2 separate regions of the Homo sapiens genome follow, and region 1 is linked to region 2. The links come from fine-mapping of genetic effects on gene expression. A gene starts in region 2. The other region holds a variant in brackets. All regions are shown on one strand. Distances are between the middles of the regions.

Region 1 (8,302 bases), 35 kb after region 2:
CATTTCTATGAGTCAATATATATAAAGCCCTTGGACTGGCACCAGATACCCAGGAAGCGCTGAGAAAGCGTAGCTGTGATTATAATTAAAGTCCTCTTTGTGGAAGTTCCTAGGCTATGTGGCAGAAAGCCCTAGCTGTCCTCCATGAACTGTTTTCTGCTTTCTGGGCGCTTGGCTAGACTGCTTCTCCCAGGTTGTTTTTGCAGTTAGCTGCGGCCACATATCTAATTTCTCAGCAAAGGCGTGTCAATGGAAGCAGTGTGTGCCCCTGGCAGGCCAGGGCTTGTAAGACAACACGTGCACCTCACCAGGCATCCTGTCCTCTTCTGCCAGCAGGACCCAGGCTATGGCCACCCAGTCTGGACCATGGGGGAGACAACAGGCTTAAGGGATGGCCTGGGTCCCCAAATGACTCACCCAGCACCATTTTGTGAGTGAGAAACAAAATTCTATTATTAGAGCCTTTACATTATGGGGTCTGTAAGTAAATACATGGAAACCTCATCGAATACAAGCACGCAGTAAATGTTATCTTTCCCAAAAGACCCCAAGGTTCCCCAAGAAGGAGCCCAGGGGGAATACACACACACACACACACACACAAACACACACACGGGCGGGAATACACACACACACACACACACTCTGAACCAACACACACAGATACAGATTTTGGCTTTTATTCTGGCCATCACACATCTACTTCTAAGACAACACAGACCGGCAGTACCCCATCCCCCATGACCACTGTCACAACCCCAATTTCCTCAGCCCCCTCCTCCCACCCCACCCCTTCTGCCAAGCTCCCCGTATGGGGGCTCTGCCTACACCTCACCCCGGGCATGCAGCATGAAGTGCCCGTGCAGCTCCCCCAGGTTGTCGAAGGAATCCTCACATTCCGTACAGTGGTAGGTTCCCTCCTCCTCCTCTTCCTCCTCCTCCTCCCGCCCAGCTGGTCGGCCCTCCCCAGCCCGAGGTGGTTCCTCCTCTTCCTCCCCGAGGGCCCTGCCTTCAGGGGCTGGTGCTTCCTGGGGGGCTGTAGCAGGGCAGCAGAGCCGGCAGGGTGGGGTTCCCGGTGGGGCCTCCCCAAGGGGTGAGCGGCCACAGAGCTGGCAAGGCTGGGCCGGGGGCTGGGCTGCACGGGGGGCCCGGCGGGATGGGCCACCACGGCCCCCGCCAAGGCGCTGCTTCACCTTGTAGCCAGGATCATATTCAGGATCGTCAGTGGTCTCCTCTTCCTCCTCCTCCTCATCTTCTTCCTCTTCGGAGTCCGGCTCTGAGAGAGTGTATTCTGAATCAGAGGAATGCTCGGGGCCTGGAGGGGGACAGACAGGGGAAGACAGTGGTATCAGAGGAAAGAGGGCTAGGCCAAGCTGTCCCCTCCCTGAATCCCCACATTCAGACTTGCCATAGTATGACAAGGATAGCCTAGACACTACCCTTCCCTTCCCCACAGATGAGTCCCCATGGCACAGAACAAGACTGGCACCCAGTAGATTCCCTGTATCTTTGTGTCAAGCAAATGAATGTCTTCCAAGAACTGCATGGGACAGGACTGGGCACAGTGGCTTATGCCTGTAATCCCAGCACTTTTGGGTGGCCAAGGTGGGAAGATCACTTGAGCCCAGAAGTTTGAGACCAGCCTGGGCAATATAGCAAGACTCCGTCTCTACAAAAAATTAAAAAATTAGCCAGGCCTGGTGATGCATTACCTGTAGTACCAGCTTCTCGGGAGGCTGAGGCGGGAGGATCACTTGAGCCGAGGAGTTCCAGGCTGCATTTGAGCCATGATTGCGCCACTCCCTTCCAGCCTGGGTGACAGAGTGAGACCTCACCACTTAAAAAGAATTTTTTTGGCCGGGCGCGGTAGATTACTCCTGTAATCCTAGCACTTTGGGAGGCCAAGGTGGGCAGATCATGAGGTCAGGAGTTCAAGACAAGCCTGGCCAACATGGTGAAACCTCGTCTCTACTAAAAATACAAAAATTAGCTGGGTGTGGTGGCGGGCGCCTGTAATCCCAGCTACTCGGGAGGCTGAGGCAGGAGAACTGCTTCAACCCAGGAGGCGGAGGTTGCAGTGAGCCGAGATCACACAACTGCACTCCAGCCTGGGTGACAGAGCAAGACTCTGCTGTCTTAGAAAAAAGCAAAAAAAAAAAAAAAAAATTATTTGATTCTTTCGATTGATTGCAAAAGAAAACAAAAACTCCATGGGGAGGTGGGGTGGGAGGCATTTAGGAAGGACAAAGCCGGAGTAGTAAAAACCCACCAGTAACAACAGCATCCTTGCTATTGTAGGAGCCCTGTTCTTATACATTAACTCACTAAATCCTCAACAACCCTTTGAGGGTGGTACTATTACTATCCCCAGTTGATGGATGTGGAAACTGAGGCACAGGGAGGCTAGACGACTCACTCCCCTGTGGTTACACAGCTCTGGCAGGAAAAGCTGAACCTGGGCCATGGCTGACACTGGATCATTTTAGGGAGACAACCATTTGAAAAGGTATTTGTGCAAATTAAAACACATGCATACACACAGATGTACTTTTATATCTGTGGCCATGGAGAGAGAGAGAGAGAGAGTTAGGTGAATTAAAACATTTATTTATAGGTAAGATATATTACTGTGATTTCACAGTTATCAAGGACAGGCCTAGGACAAGTTTAGGTTTAAAGAAAAAGGCCTGTAATCTAGCACTTTGGGAGGCTGAGGTGGGCGGATTGCCTGAACTCAGGAGTTCATGACCCACTCTGGGCAACATGGTGAAACCCCGTCTCTACTAAAAATACAAAATTTAGCCAAGTGTGGGGTGGTGGGTGCCTATAGTCCCAGCTACTCAGGACTCTGAGGCAGGAGAATTGCTCGAACCCGGGAGGCGGAGGTTGCGATGAGCCAATATTGAACCACTGCACTCCAGCCTGGGTGACAGAGCAAGACTCCGTTCCCAAAAAAAAAAAAGAAAAGGGGAAAAATTTATAGTTGATATACGGAAAAGGGCGACATCAGCTGCCATTATGGGGGCGCACACACAGAGTAATGGTTGGGGATGGGGTCCCTGTGACCACGGTGTGGGAAGTACCAGCTTCTTCGGCCTTGGTGGTAGGAGCCTGCCAAAAGCCTCACCTTGTATCCATCCCAGCCCCATTCCTCAGTTTCTCCCAGAACCCAGAGGATCCTGCTACTGCACCCTGTGCTCCGCCCTTGCTCCTGTCATCACAGTGGCCACAGGCTCTTCATACCAGGCTCCTCACCTTCCAACACCCCAGGCCCATACCTGCCTCAGGGTCTTTGCCACCCTTTCTGCCGATGTCACTCTCCATTCCATGTCTCTTCTCAAGTGTCACCTTCTCAGTGACGCCCTGGCCACTCCCCAGCACTCCCTA[C/G]GCCCCTTACTCTGCTTGATTTTTCTCCATCTTCTTTTGAGATAGAGTCTCGCTCTGTCATCCAGGCTGGAGTGCAGTGGCGTGATCTCAGCTCACTGGAAACTCCGCCTCCTGGGTTCAGGCAATTCTTCTGCCTCAGCCTCTCAAGTAACTGGGATTACAGGGGCGCACCAGCATGCCCAGGTAATTTTTGTATTTTTAGTAGAGACGGGGTTTCACCTTGTTGGCCAGGCTGGTCTCAAACTCCTGACCTCAAGTGATCCACTCATCTCAGCCTCCCAAAGTGCTGGGATTATAGGTATGAGCCACCGCAGCCGGCTCATTTTTCTCCATCTTCTGACTCACTGCATTCAACATTTACTTGTGTGTTTGTTTACTGCCTGTCCCCGAGAGCTGGGACTTTGTCTGGTTCACTGCTGTGGCCCCAGCATCTAAAACACTTCCTTTGTGCAAAGAAAGTACTTATGACATATTTATGGCATGGATATCTCTGCATGGAATTTGACAAACCTTTTCTGAGGCTTCACACACACTGTTCCTCCCTCTGGTGGGAATGTCCTGCCCTAGTTTTTCCCACCATCCTTTAGGACCCAGTGGGAGGCCTTCCTCTTTGGTGAGGCCGTCCCAGACCTCCTCATCCCAGGCAGCCAGTCACTTTTTTTACCACCCTCCTGCTGGGTCCCCAGCATCACCAGCCCAGAACAGGTTATAACTCTTTCCTTCTGAACATCCGTCCCTGCAGCTCTCTCCTACTAGTTCCTGCCATTTAACAATCGTTTCCTGAGGCCTTGGTATGGGCTGTTCCCCACTCTATCCACCTGGTGACCCCCTACTCATCCTTCAAGACCCAGCACAAACTCTGTCCTCTGTGAAGCCACCACCCTGAAGCCCCAGGCTCCCAGCCAGGTCTCTCTCCAGCTTCCCCTGCCCCAGCACCTCCTCCTGTTACTGCCCTAGAAGCTGACTGCAGTCAGCTGCCCCCCAGGGTATCTCCCTTATCTGACTGGGAACTCCTCAAGGGCAGGTATGATCTTGGGGTCCGCAGCAGAGGACGTGTGGGTGAGTGGATGATAGTGGCCCCAAGACCCTGATCTCCCTCCCCAAAGCCTTGGCCTCTGCTCCTCGCCCACCTGGTTGACCCGTTCATTTTTTTTTTTTTCGAGAGAGAGTCTCGCTGTCACCCAGGCTGGCGTGCAATGGCGTGATCTTGGCTCACTGCAACCTCCGCCTCCAAGGTTCAAGCGATCCTCCCACCTCAGCCTCCCAAGTAGCTGGGATTACAAGCGTGTGCTATCACACCTGGCTAATTTTTATATTTTTGGTAGAGATGGGGTTTCACCTTGTTGGTTAGGCTGGTCTTGAACTCCTGACCTCAGGTGATCTGCCTGCCTCAGCCTCCCAAAGTGCTGGGATTACAGGTGTGAGCCACCGCGCCCAGCCTGACCCTTTCTTTCTCTACTGGCAAAACTCCTGCTCCTTTTTAAAGCCAAGCTCATGTCACCTCCTCTGTGAAGTCCTCGCTGACTCCCCAAGCGGTCAGTGTCTCTCTCGTATGGGCTCCCCGGCCCCTGCACTGCTCTCCATCACACCCTGACCACTCTGGGCAGTGGCCCCCCTCCCCACCCACTGACTATGGGCTCCTTGAAGGCAGGGCCTGGGTCTGCCCCATCTCTGTGTCCCCAGCAATGCTGGGCATGAGTCAGCCTCAGAAGACATCTGCTGAATGGCTGCAAACCAGAGGAAATATCTCCAGCCTCAGGCTGGGACCCCTCCCCTCTCTCCTCCCACCTCTGACTTCATACCACTCACCCTCCAGAGTCTTCAATGCCCACTATTACTTCACACAGTTGGCCTGTGACAGGCAATCAGGTCATCGTCCACGGCTACCAGGTGTTTCATGTCTACTGTGACTTCCAGGACCACAAGCCCTTTTGCGCCCACCATGTCTTCACCTAAGAGATCTTCAAAGCCCAGTATGTCTCTGGCACCCAGTGGATCCTCCATGCCCACTGCGGATCCCAAGCCTCCTGCCTCCTTGAAGTCCACCAAATCAGCAACACCCAACAGATCCTTAGTGCCCACCAAACCAGCGACATCCCGTAACTCAGTCATGAGCCCAAGCAGTTCCAAGTCCACCAAATCGACCAGTACAAAAAGAGCCCCTTCTAACCGGCCCAGCAGCAGGTCCCGAGTCCGCAGCAAAGCAAGAACACCCAGCAGGGTGAGCACCGACACCAGGACCAGCAAAGCCAGCAAGGCCAGCGACGTGAGATGCCACCAGCGGAGGGGCACACACAGCCGGGGTAGGACACCTGGCAGAAGGGGAAGCCGCAGCTCCAAGAGGTCACCCAGCAGGGCCAGCACTCCTGGCAGGATAAGAACTCATGGTGCCAGACCAGGCATGGCCAGCAGGGTGAGAACTCCCACTTCACAGCAAAAAGGGAGCCGGGGAAAGAGTTACGGCCGGCCTAGAACCAGCAACAGGGAAAGGAGTGACAGCCAGCCTAGAAATCTGAGCAAGAAGAGTTACCGCCCACCAGGAGGCTCAGGTATAGGGAGGAGTTCCGAGCTGGCTGTAACTCCCAGTACAGCCAAGTGTCAAACCCCGACTGGAATTCCCTCCAAGGAGAAGAGTGACAACCCATCTCCATCCTCATCAAGGAAGGTGAAGAGCTACGGTCAGATGATCATCCCCAGTAGGGAAAAGAGTTACAGCCCCACTGAAATGTCCAGCAGGGTCAAGAGTTATAACCAGGCCAGCACCCGCAGCAGGCCGCAAAGTCACAGCCAATCTAGAAGCCCCAGAAGGTCAAGAAGTGGCAGTCAGAAGAGGACGCACAGCAGAGTGAGAAGTCACAGTTGGAAGAGAAACCATAGCAGGGCAAGAAGTCGCACCCGGAAGGGAATTCTGAGCCAGATGGGAAGACACAGCCAGTCTAGAAGCCACAGCAAGGGGAAAAGTCAAAACCAATCTAGAACCCCCAGAAGAGGAAGAAGTCACAACTGGTCTAGAAACCCCAGCAAGGAAAGAAGTCATAGCCATTCCAGAAGCTCCAGCAAAGAGAGAGATCACAGGGGATCTAGCAGCCCCAGGAAGGAGAGTGGTCGCAGTCAATCAGGAAGCCCCAACAAGCAGAGAGATCACAGCCGATCTAGAAGTCCCAACAAGGCGAGAGATCGCAGCCGATCTAGAAGTCCCTACAAGGCGAGAGATCGCAGCCGATCTAGAAGTCCCAACAAGGCGAGAGATTGCAGCCGATCTAGAAGTCCCTACAAGGCGAGAGATCGCAGCCGATCTAGAAGTCCCAACAAGGCAAGAGATCATAGCCGATCTAGAAGTCCCAACAAGGCGAGAGATCGCAGCCGATCTAGAAGCCCCAGCAAGGAAAGAGATCACAGCCAACTTGGAAGCCCCAGCAAAGAGAGAGATCACAGACGATCTAGAAGCCCCAGCAAGGAGAGACAGTGCAGACAATCTAGAAGCTCCAGCAAAGAGAGAGATCACAGACGATCTAGAAGCCCCAGCAAGGAGAGACAGCGCAGACAATCTAGAAGCCCCAACAAGGAGAGAGATCGCAGCCAATCTAGAAGCCCCAGCGAGGAGAGAGAGCACAGACAATCCAGAAGCCCCAGCAAAGAGAGAGATCGCAGACGATGGAGAAGCCCCAGCAAGGAGAGAGAGCGCAGACAATCTAGAAGCTCCAGCGAGGAGAGAGATCACAGCCGATCTAGAAGCCCCAATAAGCAGAGTGGTTACAGTCGACCTAGAGCCTCCAGCAAGGAGAAAGCTCATAGCCGATCTAGAACCCCCAGCAAAGAAGGAAATCATAGCCAATCTAGAACCTCTAGCAAGGAGAGCGACCCCAGTCAATCTACAGTCCCCAGAAGTCCCGACTGGAAGAGATCCCCTACTAGGACAAGCAGTCTCAGTCAGAATAGAACCCCTAGCAAGACAAGCAGCCACTCCCCATCAACATTTCCCAGTGGGGGCCAAACCCTAAGCCAGGATGACAGTCAAGCCGACGCCACCACCTCTAAGGCCACCTTACCTGGGGAAAGGTCTTCATCATCTTCTTCCAAGCTGGCGTAGCCCCCAGTCTCAGCTGGCTCACGGGTCTCTGTCATGACCGGGGGAGGGGACAGGAGACAGGAGCAGAGCAGCAGCTGAGCAGCGTCCCTCCCCGGCCAGCTCTCCACAGCCACACCTCCGGCCACAAGTTCTCTAATACAGGATGTTGGCAGGTAGAGAGGGATGCTGGATAGGGGGAAAGGAAAGACCTGTGATGATTCAATAAATTTTTACATAGCACCCATCCCCACCAAGCCCAACTGTGTGCTCACTGCTGGCATGGGGCACAGAGGACCCCAGCTCTGTCCCTGACTGTCTACAGGGTCTTGACTGCAAGCCCTGCCCCTCTCTAGGTCTTTTTTTTTTTTGAGACAGAGTCTCTCTCTGTTGCCCAGGCTGGAGTGCAGTGGTGTGATCTCAGCTCACTGCAACCTCCACCTCCCAGGCTCAAGCAATTCTCCTACCTCAGCTTCCCGAGTAGCTGGAACTACAAGTGTGCGTCCTCACGCCCGGCTAATTTTGTATTTTTAGTAGAGATGGGGCTTCACCATGTTGGCCAGGCTGGGCTCGAACTCCTGACCTCAGGTGATCCACATGCCTCAACCTCGCAAAGTGCTGGGATTATAGGCATGAGCCACCGCACCCGTCCCCCTCTCTAGGTCTTAATTTCCGCATGTGGGCAACAAGGCTGCCTTCTGGTTCTTATTCAGTGGGGTAGGGAGAGGTGACACTCCAAATATTCAACAGTGGGGACTGGTGTGGGCACCAATCAGAACTGAGAGTGGAGCGGGACGGATACCAGGCCTTAACCCTTTAGTTGCTGGACCATGGGGAGGTCTGGGGTTG
Region 2 (8,321 bases):
TGCTTGGCCTACAGAAGGCACTTAATAAATACTTGACTAAATAAATGAGTGAATGAACAAATAAATCCATCATCTACTCCCGAGTCTATAGGTTCTTTCTCTGCACTGACAACTTCCCCACATTCTGTCTTCAGCTCCACATGTGATCCCCAACTGCCTCCTGGATGCCACCCCTAGAATGTCCCAAAGTCACATCAAACCTGGACATCCCAACTGAAACACATCACCTCCCCAAGCTGCTCCCTCTGGGGTTTACCATGTTGGTGACCGCTGCAATACTCCCTCAGTCTCTCCCAGGCCAGAGACAGGTTCTGTCTCTTCTGCCTCCAGTCACTCTGTTTCCACAGCAACTGGGGTAACAGAATGAAATGTGATTTCCCTGGAGTCACTTGATCATAAGAGAGCCCAGTGGAATCATCACCCACTAAGTAATAAAAACACAAATCCCTCCCTCTACACAAACACCTACATGTTGACAGAGCACTTGTGCAGACATTATGTCACCGAATTTTCACAACTCCGGGCTTGGATGTCATTATTCCCAATGGACACATGAGAAAACAGGTTAGAGAAATGAAACAATTTTCTTGAGGTCACCGATTAAGAGGAAGAGCTGGGGGCTTGAATCTAGATCTCAAGACTAAAACTGTCAGCAATCTGTATCTATCACAGTTTAAAAGACTGAGGTCAGGTGCAGTGGCTCATGCCTGTAATCCCAACATTTTGGGAGGCCAAGGTGGGTGGATCACTTAAATTAGCATTTGGTGCTCATTTGCCTTGAACTCCTGAGGTCAGGAGTTCAAGACCAGCCTAGCCAACATGGCAAAACTCGGTCTCTATTATAAATACAAAAATTAGCCAGGCATGTAAATTCCAACTACTCAGAAGGCTGAGGCATGAGAATCATTTGAACCTGGGAAGTGGAGGCCATTAGTTGACAGGCACTAAACACTGACATCAATTGGGGTGGACCAGATGATGTTACAGTAACAAAGGAGTCCCTAATCTCAGTGGTTTAAAACAACCAAGTTGTATTAACTTACACTGTAATAATGCTGTGTAACAAATCATCCTAAAACTGAGATCTTTTCTTTTTTTTTTTTTTTTTTTTTTTGAGATACAGTCTCACTCTGTCTCACAGGCCGGAGTGCAGTGAAACCATCACAGTTCACTGCAGCTTCAACCTTATGGGCTCAATCAATCCTCCCCGCTCAGCCTCCCTGGTAGCTGGGACTACAGGCATACGCCACCAAGCCCAGCTATTTTTTATAATTTTTCGTAGAGATAGGGTTTCCCCATGTTACCCAGGCTGGTCTCAAACTCCTGGGTTCAAGCGATTCACCCACCTCGACCTCCCAACATGAAAACTGAGACTTATACCAACAAGCATTCTTATAAGAATTTGTGGGATGGCTGCTTTGGCTGCAGTTTGGGAGGATTCAGGTCTCTTCCATGAGATTCCACAGTTTTCTGGGATTAGCAGTAACCTGGCAAATGTTCTCATGGCATATTATGGGAGCACAAAAGCCAAGTGCATTTAAGGCCCTTGCTGAAGTTAGATGTGCTGAAATTCCATTAAGTAAATCATATGGTCAAACTCATCAATGGAGCAGGGAAATATACTCCCCCTCCAGTGGGAGGGAGAGGAGTGGATATTTGCTGAATGACTGCCCATTCACAAAAGGTTAATTTTTCCGTCACCCTAGCACTATCCACAGAGTGTTCTGCTCCTTATAGTCATAAAGCAGCCCCCAGGCCAGGAACAATGGTTCATGCCTGTCATCCGAGCACTTTGGGAGGCTGAAGCAGGAGGAACGCTTGAGCCCAGGAGTTTGAGACCAGCCTGGCAACATGGTGGAAACCCCATCTCTAAAAAAATACAAAAAAAACTAGCCAGGCATGGTGGTGCACACCTGCAGTCCCAGCTACTCAGGAGGCTGAGGTGGGAGGATCGCTTGAGCCCAGGAGGTAGAGGCTGCAGTGAGCCAAGCCAAGATCATGCCACTGCACTACAGCCTGGGAACAGAGTGAGACTCTGTCTCAACAGATAAATAAAAGATTGACTGTCAGGCAAATTGTATAACTTCTTTGGGCCTCAGTTTCCTCATCTGTAAAAGTGGGGATAACAGAGCCTGCCTCTTGGGGTTTTTTATGAGGACTCAATGAGCTAATCCATGTGAGTGAGGTGTGTAGAGCAGCGACTGACAGGTAACGTTGAATAATGCCAGCTCTCATTATTATTATTTTATTTTTTATATTTTGGGGGTCTCACTCTGGTGCCCAGGCTGGAGTGCAGTGGCACAATCTCAGCTCACTGCAGCCTCCATCTCCTGGGCTCAAGCAATTCTCTCACCTCAGACTCGCCAGTAGCTGGGATTGCAGGTGCACACCACCATACTCAGCTAATCTATAAAATTTTGGTAGAGATGACATCTTACTGTATTGCCCAGGCTGGTCTCAAACTCCTGGGCTCATGCAATACTCCAGCTTCGGCCTCCCAAAGTGATGGGATTACAGGTGTGAACCACCATACCTGGCTATTATTCTTTAAAAAAAATTATTTATTTTAATAAAAATAGAGACAGGGTCTTGATATGTTGCCCAGGCTGGTCTGGAACTCCTGAGCTCAAGCAATCCTCCCATCTCAGGCTCTGAAAGTGCTGGGTTTACAGGCATGAGCCACGGCATCCGGCCAGTTTCCCCTTCTTTAAAGTGGAGTTGATTGGCTTAGACGACCTTCCTGGACACCTTCCAGCCCTGAGCCCACTGGCTGCAGGAGGCAGAGTACGTGGCAATGATTCATTTTGTTCCAGCTGAGGAAACTGGAACCCAGAAAGTAGATGCCACCTGCCCAGGACCACACACTGATTCCTGTGGTCATCCTGGACTTAATCCTTGGGTCTCCTTTCCTCTCTGCTGAGGGGCACAGGGATTATGCTGCCCATTTTCCGAGTAAGGAAGCTGAGGCCCAGCAAAGAAAGTGACTAAACCCACTGCCAGTTGGCTCAGGAGCAGAATCTGGAACCCCGGACTCCAGACTCCTAGTGAGGAGGAGGTGGGGTGGCAGGATCACCTGTAGGACCACAGAGATGGTCTTCTCGCCTGCCTTGGCTGCCCGCCATTTTCGGTAAGTGTCTGCCTTGAGAAGATTTTCTGCACAGTGAGTCTGGAAACAACAGTGGGAGAGGAGAATTAGGGCACAGAGATGACAGCTAGGCCTCCAGCTCTCAGATGATTCCTTTGAGTCCTCCCAAGGCCTCTACGACCCCCAGATTTAAGCTCTCCCGTTAATCCCCCGACACTCTGCCTGGAGTTTCCCCTACAACACTTTCCCGTGGAAGTTCACCTATGGGCTCTCCAAGAAAGCTTCCCTATTCCTCCTTTTCTCTCCGGAAGTTCCCTAGACGCCGGAACGTCCCTAATTCAACATCTCTCCACAATTCACTTTTAGCCTCCTGGAAATCCCCCCATGACTCTCCTTAGACTTCCAAGAGAACCCCAAAAGCTCTTTTAAGAGCTATCCTCATTAATTCCCTCACGTCTTCCAACCTCCCCCATGCAGGTCCCTCACCGAGTCCTGGCTGCTGCAGGACACGACATGGCGGAGGCGGATCTCCGGCATGTCAACGTCGTGGGCTTCGCCTGGCCAGAAGGATGAGGTAGAGTATGGGGTCCGAGGGGCAGGGAGAGTGGGAGGGGGCGGGGTGCGCCCTGCGCTGGCTAAAGTGCGCAAGCGCGCGAGGCTCGGGCCTTTCAAACCCCGGCGCGCCGGCGCCGGCGTCGACACTGCGCAAGCCCAGTCGCGCCTCTCCAGAGCGGGAAGAGCGCTGCGTTCCTTAGCAACGAGCGTTTCCTCCAGCCCCGCCTCCCTCCGCCACACACAACCCCGCTCTAGCCTCGCCTCCCAATGACGTCCGAACCCTGCTTTCTGGGAGCCTAGCAACAGAAGCGACCTCCGGGATTGGTGTCTGGAAGAAATTCGCCTTTCTCATTGCACGATGGAGTTACCGCCCACACTGAAGCCGAGAAAGCAAATCTTTTTGCTGTATTATTATTTATTTTATTTTTTAAAAATTTTTTGTTGAGACAGGGTCTTGCTCTCTCACCCAGGATGGAGTGCAGTGGCACGATCTCGGCTTTCTGCAACCCCTGTCTCCTGGGGCCAAGGGATCCTCCCACTTCAGCCTCCTAAGTAGCTGGGATTACACGCACGCGCCACCACATTCGGCTAATTTTTGTATTTTTTGTGGAGACATGGGGTGAGAGGGCGGCGGGTCTTGCCATGTTGCCCAGACTGGTCTCGAACTCCTCAGCTCAAGCGATCCACCTGCCTCGGCCTCTCAAAGTGCTGGAACTACAGGCGTGAGCGACTGCGCTGGGCTAGGACAGCAAATCTGAGTGAATTTTCGTAGTTTCGTAGGGAACCTGGATTCTACGCAACAGGATCTCTTCAAATGGCTCAGGCGGCTGCACTCTTCTCTCTGTCCCCTTGCCACACACACACACACGCACATATACATACATACGCGCGCGCGCACGCGCGAAAAAAATTAGCAGATCTCTTTCAGCCTTATGCCTGAGGCCAAAAGAGAAGGGTTCTGCGTCCTAAATATAACACAAAGCATGTGCCCAACCCCCACCACACACACACACACACACCCCTATCCTGGAGTTCTTCCACAAAAGCCTCAGTTTCCCAATATGTGGACTGTGGGCATCTGTCTTTTACTACGCCCGCCTATGACTGCCGACAGACATCCCTCTGTTCATTCGGTGCCTTGGAGACCCAAGGGTGCAGCCCTGGGTGGGGTCGCAGCTGGAGACAGCCCAAACACACAAGGAGTGTGAGCCGAGCACATGAAGAGAGGGGAAGGGAGACAAGGCACCCCGCACCCGCAGGACCAGCCTGGACATGCTGGGTGCTCCAAGGTGGGGCCCTACCCACACTGGGTGCTTCCTTGGGAGGAGAGGGGAAGAGAGAGAAGGAGAGGGAATCCCAGTTCTTGCAGCCACTGGGAATCAAGAGGCCCAACTCCGTCTTGGTCTTCAAGCAAACAAACAAACAACAATGGGCCGTGGGAAGGTGAGAAAACAGGGTGGTGACTTTCTGGGTTCTAATAGAAGAGGGGGATGGAAGCCCAGACTCCTGGGGTCTCCATGGAGGTGGGGGGCTGGGCACAAGATGCCCAGGTCACTTTTGGATTCTGGTTCTGCCTTCCCAACCCGGAGGCCACAGAGGACTGCCCTGGGTTCTGACCTCAGCTATTTCTCCCCGTAGGGTGAATGTGGGTCCAGACCCACCCCTCCTCAGCTTCCTATAAAAGCTGGGGACCAGGTACTGCTGATACACACACCATGAGGCTCTCCAGGAGACCAGAGACCTTTCTGCTGGCCTTTGTGTTGCTCTGCACCCTCCTGGGTCTTGGTAAGTGACAAGGGACCTGAACTGTCTCTGGGACCTCAGGAAGAGAGAGGTCCCAGATTGAGAGAGAGAGAGATATAGAGAGAGAAAGAGCCTTCAGCAAGTCCTCAAGGTGAACGGGGAGGCATTCTGGAAATTCAGATTCATGGAAGAGGCCAAGGGTAAAGGAAGAGAAAGCCTGGGGGTCCCAGAGAAGAAAAGCTCCTGTGATTGGATCCCTGAGAGAGGGGCTTGGTGGGCTCTGAATCCTCCATCCTCCAGGAAGGATCCCAAACACATCTCAATTCTAGGAAATCAGATGAGAGCATGGCTGGAAAGGGAAATCTTTAAAAATATAATTAAAAAAAAAAAAAGAGGGAGAAGGCCAGGTGCGGTGGCTCATGCCTGTAACCCCAGCACTTTAAGAGGCCGAGGCAGGTGGATCACTTGAGGTCAGGAGTTCAAGACCAGCCTGGCCAACATGGTGAAACCCCGTCTTTACTAAAAATACAAAAAAAGTTAGCTGAGCTTGGTGGTGGGCGCCTGTAATCCTAGCTACTTGGGAGGCTGAGGTGAGAGGATTGCTTGAAACTGGGAGGCAAAGGTTGCAGTGAGCCAAGATCGTGCCACTGCACTCCCCAGCCTGGGTGACAGAGCAAAACTCCATCTCAAAAAAAATACATTAATATCATATGATATATTTTTTTAAAAGAGGTAGAGAGATTTCCTTTCTCCTTAGACTAAGAAGTTCAGGCCCCAGCCCCCTCCTCCCCTGCACACAGGAGTCCAAGTAAGCCTCACTTTCCCCAGGACCCAGGTTTCTGGGCCCCTAGCTGTCCCCTCTCTCAGAACCAAGAAGTTCAAGTCCTCTGCCCTCCTGGTCCTCACTCTCCCTCCTTGACCTGGGATGCAGACCCTAGCCTCAGGGCCCCCTGCCTGAGCTCCTGCTGTCTACAAGACCTACATGGCACCTTCAAGGAGGAGAATCCCACATTCAAGAACCAGCTGGACCTGAAGTTTCACAAAAGTCCATGGAAACCTCCATCACGACCCCTCCCTGCCCCTGAGCTTTCTCAGCGGACCCTGGCATCCAAAATCCCCAGCCATGTAATTAGGCAAACAGGCTTCATGGTGGAGTCGCTTCCCGCCCCTGGAAGCAGCTTTGCTGGCATCACCACTGCTTCTTCGTCCAACTCTGGACAGTTCCTTGGGCAGTGGTCAACATCCCGCCCATGAAAAACCAGGGAGCTGCTGGTCCCTCCTCTCTCAGGACACAAAAGTCCTAAGTCAAAGTCGTGGTCCGAAGACCACACCACCCATGACTACAGCCTCGCCCTCTGTCTACACTGCAGGGTGCCCACTACACTGCGAAATATGTACGGCGGCGGGGAGCAGGTGCCATGGCCAAATGAAGACCTGCAGCAGTGACAAGGACACATGTGTGCTCCTGGTCGGGAAGGCTACTTCAAGTAAGAGGATGTGGCCTGGGACCTGGTGGGGAGGTGGGGTGTACCTTCAGGGTGGAAGAGACTACCATGCTGAGGGGGGATCATCATGGTTCTCAAGACGGGAGCGTGGGAAGAAATCAGTGGAGAGCAGGAAAGAGGGAAAGACCATCATGAGATGGAGGGAACAGAAATAAGTGGTGTGATAGAAATCATTATTGTCACAGAATTCTGAAAATGACACTGTCCTAAAGAGAAGGAAAATGTGGGAGGGGTGAGAGTTAATAGACTTTCTTAGGCAGAAGAGGGGTAAGGAAAGACACTGTGGGGGGCAGAGAAATAGTGAGAGGGGAAGAATCTAACTGGCAGGAGGTGGAAATGGTGGGGAGTGGATAGAGAAGGAAGAGGCTGGGCTGGGGTGGGAAAGTGTAAGTGTAATCAGGGAAGAGGTCATTCCTGACCGAGGGAGGAGAGATGATGGTGGAGTGTTGGAGTGGTGGAAGAGACAGAAAAGGGATCACCCCAAACAGGAGATGGATGATAACCTTGAAGTATGGAGCAAATCATTTTTTTTCTTTTTTGAGACAGAGTCTCGCTCTGTCACCCAGGATGGAGTGCAATGGCGCGATCTCTGCTCACTGCAACCTCCACTTCCCAGGTTCAAGCGATTCTCCTGCCTCAGCCTCCCGAGTAGCTGGAATTACAGGTGCGTGCCACCACACCTGGCTAATTTTTGTATTTTTTAGTAGAGACGGGGTTTCGCCATGTTGGCCAGGCTGGTCTCTAACTCCTGACCTCAAGTGATTCTCCCGCCTCGACCTCCCAAAGTGCTGGGATTACAGGCATGAGCTACCGTGCCTGGCTGAGCAAATCATCGTAAAGAGGAGAAGCAGAGACAGGGAGGGGGAGATGTGGATGAGTAAAATGAAAGGGAGGCCGGGCACGGTGGTTCACGCCTGTAATCCCAGCACTTTGGGAGGTTGAGGTGGGAGGATCGTTTGAGCCCAGGAGTTTGAGACCAGCCTGGACAACAAAAAGAGATCCATCTCTACAGAAAAAAAAAAAAAAAAATAGTTGCGCATGGTGGCACATGCCTGTAGTCCCAGCCACTTGGGAGGCTGAGGCAGGAGGATCACTTGAGCTTAGGAGATCGAGGCTGCAGCGAGCTAAGTGCACACCGCTGCACTCCAGCCTGGGCAACAGAGGGAAACCTGTCTCAGAAAATAAAATGGAAGAGAGAAGATGGGCATGAGTTAAATGAAAGAGACCACCCCAGACCTGAAAAATGATGGAGGAGAAAGGGAGCAATGGAAGAGACCAGTGGGGGACAGAGATGTTTATACAAAGCTGAAAGAGACTTTCAATCACAGGAGGAGAGATGATGAGGCCTGGTGAGGGAATAAAGGCGACTTTGGGTGCAGGGAGAAAACACTGGTCGGGAGAGGCTGTGAAAGGAAAGTGAGATCGAAAATCAC

Evidence for each region. PIP is the estimated chance that this variant, and not a neighbour inherited with it, causes the effect.
Region 1: its variant is fine-mapped to the expression of PINLYP in thyroid (GTEx, PIP 0.98).

The regions. Positions count from the first base shown.
Region 1 is chr19:43,606,793-43,615,094 of GRCh38, forward strand. ZNF428 (zinc finger protein 428) reads right to left here. Exons shown (of 3, transcript NM_182498.4): 2 at 7,437-7,642; 3 at 432-1,315. The coding sequence starts at 7,512. The coding sequence ends at 825. SRRM5 (serine/arginine repetitive matrix 5) reads left to right here and starts at 5,296. Exons shown (of 1, transcript NM_001145641.2): 1 at 5,296-7,706. The coding sequence starts at 5,330. The coding sequence ends at 7,477. The variant C/G (reference allele first, on the strand shown) is at 3,388.
Region 2 is chr19:43,571,837-43,580,157 of GRCh38, forward strand. PINLYP (phospholipase A2 inhibitor and LY6/PLAUR domain containing) reads left to right here and starts at 3,965. Exons shown (of 6, transcript NM_001193621.3): 1 at 3,965-5,083; 2 at 5,279-5,425; 3 at 6,754-6,870. The coding sequence starts at 5,356. It overlaps XRCC1 (X-ray repair cross complementing 1), which reads right to left and starts at 3,691. Exons shown (of 17, transcript NM_006297.3): 1 at 3,572-3,691; 2 at 3,074-3,166. The coding sequence starts at 3,622. RefSeq lists a silencer at 3,645-3,804 and enhancers at 3,905-4,064, 4,065-4,591, 4,592-5,117.